Linked DNA regions of Homo sapiens. The protein of the gene in region 1 purifies or fractionates together with the protein of each later gene. This does not show direct contact. Each region holds a gene or a part of one and is shown in the gene's direction. Other genes may lie near its edges.

The links. Proteins that work in one complex are often made in the same cells at the same time.
Region 2: the proteins of SLC25A6 (region 1) and NDUFB8 fractionate together in Homo sapiens (co-fractionation; 2 studies listed by BioGRID). This does not show direct contact.

The regions. Positions count from the first base shown.
Region 1 is NC_000023.11:1,389,091-1,396,607, reverse strand, and holds the start of SLC25A6 (ADP/ATP translocase 3), read left to right. Parts: upstream 1-4,598; coding exon 4,599-4,709; intron 4,710-6,880; coding exon 6,881-7,367; intron 7,368-7,517. Other genes in the region: serine/arginine repetitive matrix protein 1-like, read right to left, coding at 216-236, 1,060-1,478, 3,845-4,266, 4,377-4,600. UniProt on the Homo sapiens protein: ADP:ATP antiporter that mediates import of ADP into the mitochondrial matrix for ATP synthesis, and export of ATP out to fuel the cell.
Region 2 is NC_000010.11:100,523,203-100,526,882, reverse strand, and holds the end of NDUFB8 (NADH dehydrogenase [ubiquinone] 1 beta subcomplex subunit 8, mitochondrial isoform 1 precursor), read left to right. Parts: intron 1-328; coding exon 329-484; intron 485-2,743; coding exon of another isoform or gene 2,744-2,794; exon of another isoform or gene 2,795-2,953; coding exon 2,954-3,046; 3' UTR 3,047-3,143; downstream 3,144-3,680. UniProt on the Homo sapiens protein: Accessory subunit of the mitochondrial membrane respiratory chain NADH dehydrogenase (Complex I), that is believed not to be involved in catalysis. Complex I functions in the transfer of electrons from NADH to the respiratory chain.

The DNA.
Region 1 (7,517 bases):
TGGAGGGGCAGGGCAGTGAGAGACACAGCTCTACCCCCACTACCCAGCAGCTGTTGTCTCTCCCACTTCCAATTCCTGGGTGTGAGGCCCACCTGATCCTCCTTTCCCAAGGAGGCTGTGTGGCCCCAAAGGCCTCCCAGGTCATGCCCTAGTCAGGCATAGCAACTGTGTTGTTCCCTCCCAGATACGAGGGGCAAAGGAGTTAGTGTCCAAGGCTAAGTCCCACGTGCAGCACTCTGTATGGAAAAACAGCCCCAATTAGCAATTCATTCATCCATCCATCCATCCATCCATTCATCCATCCATCCATCTATTCATCCATCCATCATCCATTCATTCCAGAAGCATTTGCTGAGTGAGCACATCCATCTATCCATGCATCCATCCACCCACCCATTACCCATCCAATTATCCATCCATTCCAGAAGCATTTGCCGATCGAGCGCATCCATCCATCCATCCACCCATCCATTCCAGAATCATTTACCAAGCAAACACATCCATCTATCCATCCATCCACCCACTCATTGATTATCCATCTATCCATCCATTATCCATCCATCCATCCCAGAAGCATTTGCCAACAGAGTGCATCCATCCATCCACCCACCCACCCATTCATTATCCATCCATCCATTCATTCTAGAATCATTTGCCAAGCAAACATATCCATCTATCCATCTGTCCATCCACCCATTCATTATCCATCCACCCACTCATTATCCATCCATCCCAGAAGCATCCATTATTCATCCATCCACCCATTATCCATCATCCATCCACCCATTATCCATCCATCCATCCATCATCCATCCATCTATACATTATCCATCCATCTATCCATTATCCATCCATCCATCCATTATCCATCCATCCATCCATTATCCATCCACCCACCCATTACCCATCCAATTATCCATCCATTCCAGAAGCATTTGCCGATCGAGCACATCCATCCATCCACCCACCCATTCATTATCCATCCATCCATCATCCATCCATCCATCCATCTATCCATTATCCATCTATCCATTATCCATCCATCCGTTATCCACTCACCCATCCATCCATCCATCCCAGAAGCATTTGCCAAGCACATCCTGGGAGCCAGGCCCAAGCAGGCGGGCATCCTCCTGGCTCTGAGAGGAGCTTGAGCAGAGCCCACAGACAGCACCACCCTGCTGGCGGGTCACCAAGCCACCAAGCCAGTGCAGGCTGAAGGCTGAGCACACAGAGCACCGGTCTCAGTGTCTGGACATGGTTAGCCGTCCCCACCCGCATGGAAGGAAACTTCTTCTCTCCCCTAAGACAGGCTTTGCAGACTTGGAAAGGGAACGCCGTGTTGCAGGGCTCAGGCCTGGAGCCCCGGCCAGAGCAGATGCGAGCCAGCCTCATCTGGAAATAGCAGCTCTGGTCCCGGCCTCGCTGAGGCACTGAAAACCAGCACCAGGGCCCCGTCCAGCCCGGCCTCGCTGAGGCTGGGAAACAAACACAGGTCTGTAAGGCGCAGCTCCCCAGCAAACTCCCCACCCCTGCCCAGCACCCACAGCGCTCCTGGCCTCTGTCCTCTATTCCAGGACCCCTGTAGCGAGCCTGGCTTGGTCCTGGGTCCTCAGGGGACACTGTCCACCCCCGCTGCCCTGGCAGAGCCTCAGGAATGTGCTTGGTCTCCACAGCCCTCCCCACAGCAATGTCCCAAGGTTAGACCTACCCATGCCTCAGTGACTTCTGAGACACCCGTCCCGCCGCCCAGCAGCCACTCCAGCCTCCAGAGCTGGCCCCAACCTCCAGCCCCAGGCTGAGCCGCCCTCCCCAGAGGTCAGGAAAAGCCTCAGGCAGGGCTCACAGCTGCACCCAGGAGTCACCCAGGGTGACCCCGCTCTCTGGGGCGGGTCACTCCTGCCCACCCACAGCCGGGGACTGTCATTTTCTCAGTACACAAAGGAGAGAAAGGAAAAACAAGAGCGAGAAAGACACAGGGAGAGAAAAGGAAGAGAGAAGGAAAGAAAAAAGAAAGACACAGGGAAAGAAGAGGAAAGAAAAGAAGGGAGGAAGGAGGGAGAGTGGGAGGAGAGGGAAAGAAAGGGAGAGACAGGGAAAGGCAGGAAAGGGAGAGATGGGGAAAGGCAGGAAAGAGAGAGGCAGGGAAAGGCAGGAAAGAAAGGGAGAGACAGGGAAAGGCAGGAAACGCAAGGAAGCAATGGGAAGGGAAAGAAGTGAAAAGGAAGGCGGGGAGGGAGGGACGGGAGAAAGGGAGGAAAAGAGCAAAGGAGACAGGGAGACAGGAAAGAAAAAGGGGAGGGAGGCAAACGGGGAACGGGAGAAAAAGAAAGGAAGGGAGAGGGAATGATGGAGAAAAACAGGAGGGAGGGAGGAGAGAAGAAAAAGGAAAAGGAGGGAGGAGAGAGGAAAGAGGCAGGGAGGTAGGATAGAAAAAGACGGAGGAGAGAAGAAAAAAGAAAAGGAGGCGGGACGCAGTGGCGCACGACTGTAATCCAGCACTTTGGGAGGCCGAGGTGGGCGGATCACCTGAGGTCAGGAGTTCAAGACCAGCCTGGCCAACATGGTGAAACGCCATCTGTCCTTAAAAAAAAAAATAGCCGGGTGGGGTGGCTGGCACCTGTAATCCCAGCTACTTGGGAAGTTGAGGCACAAGAATCTCTAGAACCTGAGAGGCAGAGGTTGCAGTGAGCTGAGATCACGCCACTGCACTCCAGCCTCGGTGACAGAACAAGTCTCCATCTCAAAAAAAAAAAAGGAAAACAGGGAGAAAGGGAGAAACAGAGAGGAAGGAAAGAACAAGACAGGAAAGAATAAAAGGAAGAAGAAAAAGAGAGGCAAAGGGAGAGAGGAAAAATGAAAAAAAAATTAAAAAATGGAAAAGAGACAGCTAGGCGTGGTGGCTCACACACCTGTCATCCCAGCACTTTGGGAAGCCGAAGTGGGCGGATCCCCTGAAGTCCGGAGTTCGAGACCAGCCTGACCAACATGGCGAAACCCCGTCTCTACTAAAAATATAAAATTAGCTGGGCGCGGTGGCGCATGCCTGTCATTCCAGCTACTTGGGAGGCTGAGGCAGGAGAATCGCTTGAACCCGGGAGGCGGAGCTTGCACTCCAGCTTGGGCAACAAGAGCGAAACTCTGTCTCAAAAGAAAAAAAAAACGGAAAAGAGAGAGGGGAGAAAGGGACGAGAGGAAGGGAGACAGGAAATAAAGAGGAAAAGGAAAAGAGAGGGAAGGAGGGAAAGGCAGAAAAGGGAGGAAGGGAAGGAAAGAGGAAAAGGGAAGGAGAGACGGAAAGAGGGAGAAAAAAGAGGGAGGGAGCAAAGAAAAAACAGAGGAAGGGCGGAGGGAGAAAAGCAGAAAAAGGAAGGAAAAAAATGAAAAAGAGGGAAGAAACGTAGCAAGAAAGGAAGGAGAAAGGGAGAGAGAAATGAAAGAAAAAGGGAGGGAGGGAAACGAAGGCAGAGACGGAAAGACGGAGAAAAAGGAGGGAGGCGGGAAAGCAGCAAAAAGCAAAGGCAAGCAGGGAAGGAAGAGACGGGGAGAAAAGGGCGGGCGGGAGAGAGCCGGGAAGGGAGAGGAGGCGGGAGGAGGGAGGAGGGAGGCGGGAGGGAGGGAGGAGGGAGGCGGGAGGGAGGGAGGGAGGGAGGGAGGAAGGGCGGAGTGGGAGGTCGCGAAGGAGGACCCCGGCCGCAGCCCCCGCCGGGCAGACACGGGCACAGACACGGGGAAATAGGGGAGCCCGGGCGGGTGGGCGCGGCCCACGGAACCCCCAGCCCCGGCGCGGAGGGCACCGCGGGGTCAAAGAACGGAGGCCCAGAGAGATCCCCCCCCCACCAACCTAGGCCGGGCGCGGAGGGCGGCGCGGAGTCACGGATCGGCAGCGGGACTGAGCCGCGCCCACGTGGAAGCCGCCGCAGGCTTCGCGCGGGGCCCCCCGGGTGCACGCGGGCAGGGGCCGGGGTCTCCCGACGCACGACCCCGGAGAGTGTTGAAAGGGTCGGAGCTGCCCGGAGGTCAAGGGTCAAGGGTCGGGGGTCGGGGCACCACATGTCGCACATCCCGGCGGGGTCGCCGCGGCCTCCGGGAGAAAGCGGACGACGCACTCGGAGCGAACTGGGCATCAGGGTGGGCTTCTGACTCCGCAGCTGCCCTCCCGCCCGCTCGGGTACTGGCAGCGGCCTGACCTTCACAAGGTCAAGGCTGCCGCGGAACCCCCAGCGGCCCCTACGGCGCATGGGCGGGGCCTGGCTCCCGGCATACCTAGGGGTGCGGGGCGGGACGTCTCCGGGGAGCGCAGCCAATGGGCGCGGTTCGCTGGAGTGCGGGGCGGGACGCAGCGGGATTCCCGGCAGCCCTCAGAGGCGAGGCACGCAGGCTGGTGTGGGGCGGGGCCTGGCGGCGCAGCCAATGAGCGCGGCGCGAGGAGGCGCGGGGGCGGAGAGTGGGCGTGGCGTCGGCGTCTTAGCGGCTGCGCGGTGGCTGCTCCGTCCTTTCGGTCCAGGCGGCGGCAGGGCTGAGCCAGCGACGCCCTCCATTCACTCTCCGCGCCCGTTCTCCGGCTGTCCTCCCGTTCCGCTGCCCGCCCTGCCACCATGACGGAACAGGCCATCTCCTTCGCCAAAGACTTCTTGGCCGGAGGCATCGCCGCCGCCATCTCCAAGACGGCCGTGGCTCCGATCGAGCGGGTCAAGCTGCTGCTGCAGGTGGGGACGCGGGCGCGGCCGCTCCGGGGACTAGGGGACGGGAACCGAGTGGCCGGGTCGGGCGGGGACGTGGGCAGCAGAGCCTTGCAGGCGGGCGCCGGAAGTGGAAGGCCGCGATCGCTTTGTCCACGCGCCGCCGGCTTCCGGGGGCCGCGTCACGTGACCGCTGCTGCAGGGCGTGGCGACGTCCACGCGTGCGCACTGGGCCCGGCGGGCGGGGGGAAATGCGGCACGGATTGGAGGGCGCATGCGCGCTGAGCAGGGCCCATGGACGGACCCTGCGGCTGGCGGGCCTTGACCTTGAGCTCAATCCTGCGGGTCCCCCGGCTGGGACCAACCCTTCCGGTGGATGCCTGGCAGGTGTCTGCTCTTGCTCCCTCCACCGTGAAGGGTAATTCTAAGGCCAATAGGGCAACGAGCCTGCCCGCAGGTGTCCTGGAATAACCAGGATATGGTTATTGGTGGTTCTTACCCCCTTCTTAGCTCATTTGTGCAATTCTGATCCAGAGCAATGCATTTTTTGTCTTTTGGGAGAGGCTTATAGAAAGTAGCATGATGCCTAGGAACATTGCCGCCAGGACGTCCTTGCTAACGTTGTACTCCGAGTGACAGCTCGGTGATGGGAATGAATAGGCTTGGCTGCAAGGACAGGTCACGCCCGCGATCCCAGCGCTTTTGAGAGGCCCGGGGAGTATTGCTTGAGGCCAGGAGTTTGAGAGCAGCCGGGGCCACACAGCAAGACCTCACCTCAAAAAAAATTATTTTAACTTAACGAAGCAGGACGTCCCAGTGCATTGAGAGGCCCGGAGAGGATCGCGTGAGCTCAGGAGTTTGAGACCAGCCTGGGCAACAGAGCAAGACCGCATCTCTAAGATAATTTTTTAAACCTAGTACAGGGTGGCGTGTCCCGGGAGTTTGAGACCAGCCAGGACAACATAGCAAGACCCCATCTCTAAGAAAATTTTTAAAACTTAGCAGGCGGGGTGTCCCCGCACTTTGAGAGGCCCAGGGAGGATCGCCTGAGCTCAGGAGTTTGAGACCAGCCAGGGCAACATAGCAAGACCCCGTCTCTAAGAAAAAGTTTTAAACTTAGCAGGGCGGGGTGTCCCAGCACTCGGAGAGGCCCAGGGAGGATCGTTTGAGCCCAGGAGTTTGAGACCAGCCAGGGCAACGTAGCAAGACCCCGTCTCTAAGAAAATTTTTTAAACTTAGCAGGGCGGGGTGTCCCAGCACTTGGAGAGGCCCAGGGAGGATCGTTTGAGACCAGCCAGAGTAACATAGCAAGACCCCACATCTTAAAAAAACCTTTTTTTTTTTTTTTGAGATGGAGTCTCTCCCTGTCGCCCAGGCTGGAGTGCAGTGGCACGATCTCGGCTCACTGTAGCCTCCGCCTCCTGGGTTCACGCCATTCTGCCTCAGCCTCCCTAGCAGGCACCTGCCACCACACCTTGCTAATGTTCTGTATTTTTAGTAGAGACAGGGTTTCACCGTGTTAGGATGCTCTTGATCTCCTGACGTCGTGATCCACCCACCTCAGCCTCCCAAAGTGCTGAGATTACAGGCATGAGCCACTGTGCCCGGCTTAAAAAATTTTTTTAAACTTAGCAGGGCGGGATGTCCCAGCGCTTCAAGAGGCCCAGGGAGGATCACCTGAGCTCAGGAGTTTGAGAGCAGCTTGGTCATCGTAGCAAGACTCCATCTCTAAAAGTAATTTTTCAACTTAGTGGAGCTTGATGGTTGTGCATCTGTAGACCCGGGTACTCGGGAGACTGAGGCGGGAGGATGGCTTAATCCAGGAGTTGGAGGCTGCAGTGAGGTGAGATCGCACCACTACACTCAAACCCGGGTAACAGCATGAGACCTTGTCTTTTTAAAAAAAGAAAGAGCCGGGTGCGGTGGCTCACGAGGTCAGCAGATCGAGACCATCCTGACTAACATGGTGGAACGCTCGTCTCTACTAAATAAGCAAAAAAATTAGCCGGGCGTGGTGGTGGGCGCCTATAGTCCCAGCTACTCGGGAGGCTGAGACAGGAGAATCACTTGATCACCCCATTGCACTCCAGCTTGGGCAACAAGAGTGACTTGTGTCAAAAAAAGGATGCACCCTGTAGCTGGGATGTTTCTGGGTGGTTGGCCCTGGGTCTGGTCTGAACACCCTCTGCGTCCCCCAGGTCCAGCACGCCAGCAAGCAGATCGCCGCCGACAAGCAGTACAAGGGCATCGTGGACTGCATTGTCCGCATCCCCAAGGAGCAGGGCGTGCTGTCCTTCTGGAGGGGCAACCTTGCCAACGTCATTCGCTACTTCCCCACTCAAGCCCTCAACTTCGCCTTCAAGGATAAGTACAAGCAGATCTTCCTGGGGGGCGTGGACAAGCACACGCAGTTCTGGAGGTACTTTGCGGGCAACCTGGCCTCCGGCGGTGCGGCCGGCGCGACCTCCCTCTGCTTCGTGTACCCGCTGGATTTCGCCAGAACCCGCCTGGCAGCGGACGTGGGAAAGTCAGGCACAGAGCGCGAGTTCCGAGGCCTGGGAGACTGCCTGGTGAAGATCACCAAGTCCGACGGCATCCGGGGCCTGTACCAGGGCTTCAGTGTCTCCGTGCAGGGCATCATCATCTACCGGGCGGCCTACTTCGGCGTGTACGATACGGCCAAGGGTACGTGTGGCTGCCATCGCGAAGTCCCAGAGACGGGCTCAACACACAGACGTTCCCCCAGGGTCCTGTGGGCTGAAGGTCTGAGATAAGGTGTGGGCAGGGCTGGTTCCTCCTGCGGCCTCTCTCCTGGACTTGGAGACGCCGTCTTCT
Region 2 (3,680 bases), on another chromosome or scaffold:
TAAGCTTTCCTGCTCAAGGAAGCAAGGTCCAGTGATGTGAGATCTGAGATTGCATGTGGCACACTGAATGGGACGTCTGGGAATCATGAAACTCTGTACTGTGAAAGTTGTGCACTTCCATGATGGAGCTGTCCCTATTCAGCAGAACCTAGACAGAGGCCAGCATCTAATCCTGTAGGGCAGTGTGCCTCAGACCTGGTTCTCAGCATATTGTCCCAGGGCAGTAGAATGCTTCTGTCTAGCCTTGTATCAGGCTCTAATCACTGGGGACTTGCCTGCATTTTGCAGGAAGAGTAGTATGTGACAGCTATTTGTCTTTCTGCCTCAGATGCACTGGCACCTAGACATGTACAACAGGAACCGTGTGGATACATCCCCCACACCTGTTTCTTGGCATGTCATGTGTATGCAGCTCTTCGGTTTCCTGGCTTTCATGATATTCATGTGCTGGGTGGGGGACGTGTACCCTGTCTACCAGCCTGTGGTGAGTATCCGAGAAGTGCTCCCTTAGGCACGCTTGCTTAGCCCCATTTCCTGAGGGAGTGAAGTCTCTGGGGTAGGAATCCAGTCAATACCAAGCTTGGCTTCCTGGAGTCTTAGGAGATAGGAAGATAGGAGGGCCTTGACCCATTGGCCTGCCACAAGTACCACAGCACTTCTCCACCCCTACTTCTTGGACCAGTCTGGGTGAGTAGATACACTTGAAGACTAGATGAGCAATGAGTGTGTGGAAACCAGCTAGTCACCAGAGTTGCCATTTGGGGATTATATTTATTAACAATATTTCATTAAGTGATCTTTCACAGTAGAGTTAAGGAATCTTGAGTGAAAATCTTATCCTTTGTTGGACTTGTGAAGGGCACGTCCTGTAGTATATTGGAAGCAATTAAGAGTCTACTACAGGCATAGACTTACATTTTGGAGAATGTAAAGGACATAGAAAATGAATTCTCTAGCTTTAAGGAAGTTTAGTTAAGAAAATTTAGATAAGTTACATGAGCAACATTTGAACAGATATATGGGAATTCTGTACAATCTATGTGTATATATGTGTATAGTGAATGTATGTGCTTAGTGGTATGAGTTACTGTCAAGGAGAAGGGCTACCTAGATGCTAACACACACACACACACACACACACACACACACACACACACACACACACGTATGTGCTTAGTGGTATGAGTTACTGTCAAGGAGAAGGGCTACCTAGATGCTAACACACACACACACACACACACACACACACACACACACACACACACACGCTTTGGGTGGTGGGAAGTTGGAGAAAACATTTGGGGCAAGAGAAAACAATGAAGGCGGCCAGGTATGGTGGTTTGCGCCTGTAATCCCGGCACATTGGGAGGCTGAGGTGGGCAGATTGCTTGAGCTCAGGAGTTCAAGACCAGCCTGGGCAACATAGTGAAACCCCGTCTCTACAAAGTATACAAAAAAATTAGCCAGGCATGGTGGTGCGTGCCTGTAATCCCAGCTACTTGGGAGGCTGGGGCACAGGAATCCTTTGAACTTGGGAGGCAGAGGTTGCAGTGAGCTGAAATCACACTACTGCCCCCCAGCCTGGGCAACAGAGCAAGACTCTGTCTCGAAAAAAAAAAAAGAAAACAATGAAGGAAAAGGAGGGTGAGTTAGCTGGAGTAGAATAGAGGTATAGAATCGTTCCTAAATAACCGGCTGCATTGGTTTCCTGGAGACTTGCTAAAAACCCAGATTCCCAGGCCCCACTTCTTGGTGCTCCTAATTCAGTAGCATCACAGTAGGGTTCCAGAAGCGGTATTTTTAACAAGCTCCCAGGTAATTCTGATGTGCACCTAGATTTGGAAATCACTGTGTTAAAAAATATTGTGAGGTAAGTTGGTCAGTTAGGTTGGGCAGCTTTTATTTCATTGCTAAGGGATTTGGACTTGATGGTGTAATAAAGCATTAATTGAACAAATATTTATGGAGCCTGTACTATGTACCAGATGCAGACTGTGCTAGCGGTTGGGGATACAGTGATGACTTGGTCTGCCTCTAGGTGGCAGGGAGCCATTTTGGGTTTTCGAACAGAAAAGTGACATAATGAATGCTGAGTTCTTAGGAAGATTAATCCAGGAGTAGTCTCCAGGATGTACTGGAAGGAGAGAAGCTGAAAGCAGGGAGGCTGCTGTGTTTGCAGTTGGCTGCCCAGTGCTACCTCTGCAGAGACAATCAATGTCCTGAAGGTAGCTGGTATGTCTGTGTGCACTGACACGAGCCTTCCTACCAAGCCCCAGGGGCTCCATGCTGGAGAATGCACGTAGGGCTAGGGTGAGCACTAACTTCACTTCAGGAGAGCAAGGAACAGTGTGGCTCTTCCATTTTTCAGTTCTGTAAGCACATCACCCTTTTCTCCTCCCCTTGAGCTGTGTTCTCTGACAGCTGTTTGTTGGTAAAGCCAGCAGCCCCTAAAGCACGTCCCAGCCTTGTCTCCTCTGTGCTTTCCCCCACCACTGCTGCTGCACGCCTCATTTGCTGGGCCACTTTAGTGGTGGAACCATTAGAGGCTGAGTGACTTAAAGGAGATTGAGTCTGTCTCGACCCCGAGAGAGAGTGGGATGGATGGATGCATCGTCTCATTTAGAAAGTGTTGCCTCTGACTCTAACACACTCTTCTCTCTTTCTTTACCTCCCTCCCTGTCTTCCTCCCTTCCCCTCCTTTCCCTAACCCCCTTCCCTCCCCCTTTCTCCTTCTCTCTCACAGTGTAGGCACCACTTCTCTTACAATTTAGGCTTTCTCTCTGCCTTGGGCTGAGTGAGGAAGAGGAGTGCTGTTCCTGCCTTCCTAGCCCAGCTGGGTCTGACCAGAGGCTACTGTGTACCCATTTACCATGCGTGATTGTTAACTCAGAGTGGGGTGTAGCCAGGTATTGACTGAATGTATGTTCTTGCTGACCTGTGTTTTTTTCTGTAGGGACCAAAGCAGTATCCTTACAATAATCTGTACCTGGAACGAGGCGGTGATCCCTCCAAAGAACCAGAGCGGGTGGTTCACTATGAGATCTGAGGAGGCTTCGTGGGCTTTTGGGTCCTCTAACTAGGACTCCCTCATTCCTAGAAATTTAACCTTAATGAAATCCCTAATAAAACTCAGTGCTGTGTTATTTGTGCCTCATTTCCCCAGGAATAGTCACTGCCTTGAGGAACCTCATCCTTTTCCCTTTTTTTCTGCTTGATGTCTGCTGTCTTCCCTGTTTTCTTTTTCTGAAATTTAAAGGATAAGAGGGTGGGGTGGATGGGGACTTAGGCACAAAATGTTAATTTGTTAATTTCACTTGGGTTGTAAAGGTACTTAAGGGTTTTAGCTGTGTGGAGGTGTTAAGGGTCCCTCCTTTTCCCATTTACAGGGTCAAGGAAGAAATGTTCCTAACTTTCCAAGTTGGAACAAGATTTATTTCACATAAAAAACCTTTCTAGTCTGGGTCTGGTAGCTCACGCCTATTATCCCAACACTTTGGGAGGCTGAGGTGGAAGGATTGCTTGAAGCTCAGGACTTTGAGACTAGCCTGGGCAACATGACGAGACCCCATCTCTGCAAAAAAAAATTTCAGAAAATTCACTGGGCACAGCAGTGCGCGCCTGTGGTCCCAGCTGTGCAGCAGGCTGAGCTGGGAGGATCATTTGAGCCCAGGAGCGTGCAG